Regions from separate parts of the Homo sapiens genome. Here region 1 is linked to region 2. The links come from fine-mapping of genetic effects on gene expression. A gene starts in region 2. The other region holds a variant in brackets. All regions are shown on one strand. Distances are from middle to middle.

What was found. PIP is the estimated chance that this variant, and not a neighbour inherited with it, causes the effect. A credible set is the group of variants that fine-mapping cannot tell apart.
Region 1: its variant is the best candidate, but not a certain one, in a credible set for the expression of ASB16 in cerebellum (GTEx, PIP 0.52).

The regions. Positions count from the first base shown.
Region 1 is chr17:44,088,295-44,091,197 of GRCh38, forward strand. HDAC5 (histone deacetylase 5) reads right to left here. Exons shown (of 27, transcript NM_005474.5): 12 at 93-304. Among named protein-coding and RNA genes, the nearest start is that of G6PC3, 19 kb to the left of the region's middle. The variant A/G (reference allele first, on the strand shown) is at 1,737.
Region 2 is chr17:44,169,330-44,172,232 of GRCh38, forward strand. It overlaps ASB16 (ankyrin repeat and SOCS box containing 16), which reads left to right and starts at 1,375. Exons shown (of 5, transcript NM_080863.5): 1 at 1,375-1,761; 2 at 2,717-2,903. The coding sequence starts at 1,461.

The DNA.
Region 1 (2,903 bases), 81 kb before region 2:
CTGGCCTGAAAGGAGGACTTTTCTGCCAGCCTGGTACTCTCCTGTGTCCTGCCCCCACCACAGCCCCAGGCCATTCACCTTTCCAGGCTCACCTTGCCCAGCTGTAGCTGCTGCTGCTTCTGCTTCTCCAGGAACTGCTGGTGCTGTTGTTGCATGACCAGCTGCTGCAGGGCCTGGGGACTCTGCGGCAGCGGTGAGGACTGAGTGCGGCTCAGGGGCCGATGCCGCGGGAGCTTGCCTACCGTCCGCATGCTGGTGGCCACACGTTCACCCGTCACTAGTGGGGACTGCCCGTGGAGTGGCACTACGGAGTTGGGGGTGATGACTAAGCACCATTGTCAGGGCACCTGACTGCCCTCCCACCGACCCTGCATCTTGCCCCCACAACCCCCTCTGGCATATCACCACCTATATACTCAGGAAAAACCCTGGGGGACCTGAAGCACCCCCCACCCAAACCTGAGCTCCATTCTTCCTCTTCCCCATGAATGAAGAGTTTCACAGCTCTAAGGTACCACCTCCAGCAAGCCTTCCTGGATTCACCATCTTTTCCCTTCGATTTCCTTAACTGAATAAACTGAGTATACATTTAGTCTTGAGCCCTCTGAACGAACAATGACTTTTCTCCCTAAGTGCAACAAGGCCTCCCTGATCATGGATCCTCCCCGTGGATCCCGCCAGGCTAGGAAGCCCTAGGGCCAGGATCATGTATCTTTCAAGCAGAACCTCTTCTGGTGCCAGGGCTCTTTAGACAGCCCTGGTACTTAAGGGCTGTCTAAAGTTGTGCTGTCTAGTCCCATAGCTACTAGTTACATGTGACTGCTGAGCCCTTGCACACAACCTGTCTAAACTGAAATGTGATATAAGTGTGAAGTATACACTAGATTTCAAAGAGTATGAAACAAAAACCAAAATATCTCATTGGTAACTGCATATTGGCCAGGCACAGTGGCTCACACCTGTAATCCCAGCACTTTGGGAGTCCAAGGCAGGGGGATGGCTTGAGCCCAGGAGTTCAAGACCAACCTGGGCAGCTGGGTGCGGTGGCTCACACCCGTAATCCCAGCGCTTTGGGAGGCCAAGGCAGGTGGATCACTTGAGGTCAGGAGTTCAAGACCAACTTGGCCAACATGGTGAAACCCCGTCTCTACTAAAAATACAAAAATTAGGCCAGGCGCAGTGGCTCACGCCTGTAATTCCAACACTTTGGGAGGCCAAGGCGGGTGGACCATCTGAGGTCAGGAGTTCAAGACCAGCCTGGCCAACGTGGTGAAACTTCTTCTCTAATAAAAATACAAAAAATTAAGCCAGGCATGGTGGCACATGCCTGTAATCCCAGCTACTTGGGAGGCTTAGGCAGGAGAATCACTTGAACTCGAGAGGCAGAGGTTGCAGTGAGCCGAGATCTTGCCACTGCACTCCAGCCTGGGCAACAAGAGTGAAACTTCGTCTCAAAAAAAAAAAAAAAAAAAAAAAAAAATTAGCTGGGTGTGGTGGCACACGCCTGTAGTCTTAACTACTCAGGAGGCTGAAGCAAAAGAACCGCTTGAAGCTTGAACCCAGGAGGTGGAGGGTGCAGTGAGCAGAGATCCTGCTTACTGCACTCCAGCCTGGGCAACAAAGTGAGATTCTGTCTCAAAAAAAAAAAAAAAAAAAGGATGAGCATGGCGGCTCACACCTGTAATCCCAGCACTTTGGGAGGCCGAGGCGAACGGATCACCTGAGGTCAGGAGTTC[A/G]AGACCAGCCTGGCCAAGATGGTGAAACCCCAGCTCTATTAAAAATACAAAAATTAGCCAGGCGCGGTGGCAGGCGCCTATAATCCCAACTACTTGGGAGGCTGAGGCAGGAGAATTGCTTGAACCCGGGAGGCAGAGGTTGCAGTGAGCCAAGATCACGCCACTGCACTCTAGCTTGGGCAACAGAGCGAGACTCAGTCTCGAAAAAAAGACCAGCCTGGGTAACATAGCAAGATCCTGTCTCTACAAAAATTAAAAAATAGAAAGAATAACTGCATATGTATTACCGAAATTGTAATATTCTGGATATAATGAGTTAAATATATGTGGTGAAATTAATTCCACTTGCTTCTCTTTTTTTTGAGACAGAGTGTCGCTCTGTTGCCCAGGCTTGGGTGCAATGGAGCGATCTCGGCTCACTGCAACCTCCGCCTCCTGGGTTCAAGCAATTTTCCTGCCTCAGCCTCCCGAGTAGCTGGGATTACAGGTGCCCGCCACCACGCCCAGCTAATTTTTGTATTTTTAGTAGAGATGGGATTTCACCATGTTGGCCAGGCTGGTCTCAAGCTCCTGACCTCAAGTGATCCACCTGCCTTGGCCTCCAAAGTGCCGGGCTCACAGGCTTGAGCCACCATGTGTGGCTCCACTTGCTTCTTTTAATTTTTTTATTTTTTTGAGACGGAGTCTCACGCTCTGTGCCCCAGGCTGGAGTGCAGTGGCACGATCTCGGCTCACTGCAAGCTCCGCCTCCCAGGTTCACACTGTTCTCCTGCCTCAGCCTCCTGAGTAGCTGGGACTACAGGTGCCCACCACCACGCCCGGCTAATTTTTTGTATTTTTAGTAGAGACGGGGTTTCACCATGTTAGCCAGAATGGTCTCAATCTCCTGACCTCGTGATCCACCCGCCTCAGCCTCCCAAAGTGCTGGGATTTCAGGCGTGATCCACCGCGCCCGGCCTTCTTTTTACATTTTTTAATGTGGATGCTAGAAATTACGTATGTAGATTGTGTTATGTTTCTACTGAACAACACTGCTCTGGGATGTGAACGCCAAGATGGCAGCAGATTTTGTCAAGAACAGTGCCTGGCATCCTGTAGGTATCCCATGTTTCCAGAATGTGGAAGAAATCACTGATGCTGTTGATTCTGCTAAGGGGAACTGTGACA
Region 2 (2,903 bases):
TTCAGTGAGCCGAGATCACCCCACTGCACTCCAGACTGGGTGACACCATGAGAAAAAAAAAAAAAGGATGATTGAAGGCAGTTTCTACAGACTAGTCTGTCCTGCTTGGAGAATGGGGGAGGCTGCCAGGTGGCTGCAGCAGCTGAAGGCAAAAAGTGTACCATCTTTTTTTTTTTTTCTTCTTTTTTTAAGAGATGGAGAGGCAGGGGGTGGTGGCTCACGCCTATAATCCTAGCACTTTGGGAGGCCGAGGCGGGCAGACCACGAGGTCAGGAGTTCGAGACCAGCCTGGCCAACATGGTGAAACCCTAAATTAAATCTCTACTAAAAATACAAAATTTAGCTGGGCATGGTGGCGGGTGCCTATAATCCCAGCTACTCAGGAGGCTGAGGCAAGAGAATCGTTTGAGCCCGGGAGGCGGAGGTTGCAGTGAGCCAAGATCGTGCCATTGCACTCCAGCATGGGAGACAGGGTGAGACTCTGTCTCAAAAAAAAAAAAAAAAAAAAAAAAGATATAGGTCTCACTGTGTTGCCCAGGATTGTCTCAAACTCCTAGGCTCAAGCAATCCTCCTGTCTTGGCCTCCCAAAGTGCTAGGATTACAGGCATGAGCCACCATTCTTGGCCCAAAGCACACCATCTATGTGGGGTCCTGGCTCTGCCTCTCACAAACTGTGACCTTGAGCCAGTAGATTACTTTGTTAAGCCTTAAATTCCTCATCTGTAAAACAGAGATAAGACCACCCATCTCAGGGGCATTCAACTGTGATAATTTCATTTATTGTCCAAACCAAGTTTACTAATTATTGGGTGGGCTGGGAAGTATGATCCCCTGGGTGAAGGTGGATATGAATGTGATTTAAACACCGTGAAACTCTGTGCATATGTACAGAGTTATTGCTGTTACTGCAGATGCTGGGAAGAGCTGCTCACCTTCTCAGTAACTCTGCCTTGACCTCCCCTTACCTCCTGTGCTGAGGTCAGCCCTCTCTCCTCCACGTGGGCCAATGGTGGCTCCTGCCCTCCAGCCAACATCAGAGAGGCTGGAGGCACCTTGTCTTCCTCCCAGCCCTGCCCATCTCCATGACTGACCTTTTTGCGCACCCTGGACCTTGCCAACCCAAGATGCTCGCTCTAGAGATGAAGGTGGATGCAGATGCTGGGGTTCGGGGGTGGCCTCAGCTGAGGGCCTGCTGACCAACCAAAGGGTATCGGCAGGGGCAGGGGCTGGCCCTCACCCTGGGCTGGGGGTTGGGCCAGCAGCTTCTCAGCACCAGGATCATGACTCTGAGCAAACCATGTTTACCAGAGCAGCAAAGGACCTATTTATAGCCTCAGCTGCTGCTTTCTCTGGCTCACGGTGGCGGGGGCAGGGTGGCTCCTCAGAGCAAGGGAGGTAGTCGGGTCGAGGGAACCTGGCTCTGCCCAGGTGCCACTGCCCAAACCCCTGGGCCCCATCCATGGCAAGAGAGACCTTCCCCTTCACCTCCTCCATGCTGCGCTCTCTCCGCCTGCAGCAGGAGTGGCTGGAATGGGAGGACCGGCGGCGGGCGGCTGCCCAGCAGTGCCGGAGCCGCAGGTGCCCGTCAAGTCCCCGGGCCCGACTCACTAGGCCTCACCGTTCCTGCCGAGACCCAGCTGTCCACCAAGCCCTCTTCTCCGGCAACCTGCAGCAGGTCCAAGCCCTGTTCCAAGATGAAGAGGCCGCCAACATGATTGTGGAGACTGTGAGCAACCAGCTGGCCTGGTCGGCTGAACAGGGTAGGGGGCACCAGAAGAGGGCAGAAGAGGAGGGAGAAAGAAGGGGAGTGGGTGGGGAAGGGGGAGAGTCTAGGCCCCTCCTTCCCTGCAGACCACAGACTATAGCAGCCCTTTCCACCACCTATCCTAGCTCCCTCCTAAACAGAGATGAGGCAGGGTTAGCAGTCTGTATGTCTTTTAAGAATTAAAAGTTGACCGGGCACAGTGGCTCACGCCTGTAATCCCAGCACTTTGGGAGGCCAAGGCAGGCGGATCACGAAGTCAGAAGTTTGAGACCAGCCTGACCAACATGGTAAAACCCCATCTCTACTAAAAATAGAAAAATTAGCCGGGCATGGTGGTGCGCACCTGTAATCCCAGCTACTCAGCAGCTGAGGCAGAAGAATCACTTAAACCCGGGAGGCGGAGCTTGCAGTGAGCCAAGATAGCGCCACTGCATTCCAGCCTGGGGGACAGAGCGAGACCCTGCCTAAAAAAAAAAAAAAAAGAGACAAGGTCTCACTATGTTGCCCAGGCTCATCTCGAACTCCTGAGGTCAAGTGATCATCCCGCCTTGGCCTCCCAAAGTGCTAGGATTACAGGTGTGAGCCACCACCCCAGGCCCCAAGGTGAACAAGCCTTTGACACTATTAGCCATTCAAAGACGCTGAGATTTCCTTAATGGGAGTCACTCTACTTAGTTGGCCCCTGTGGTTTTATACAGCAATTAATTTTTTTATGACACATACTATGTTTTGTTACAGATTGATAAGCTGTATTAAAAGGCTGTTCCAATTTATTCTTCCACTTCAGGACTTGAATAAGCCCCCTTCCACAGGTACAGCCTGGCAGTGTTTGTGCTCAGCAAACCATGCAGAGGGAAGGCCAGTGTCAGCTGTCAGCTGGAACCAGCATCCCCACTCCCTGCCCTGCCCTGTCTTATACACCACCTCCCAAAACTATTTGCTCTCCCTAGGGTTCTGGGTGCTGACCCCCAAGACCAAGCAGACGGCACCCCTCGCCATCGCTACAGCCCGAGGCTACACAGACTGTGCTCGACACCTGATCCGGCAGGGAGCTGAGCTGGATGCCCGTGTCGGGGGTCGCGCTGCCTTGCATGAGGCCTGTGCCCGAGCCCAGTTTGACTGTGTGCGGCTGCTGCT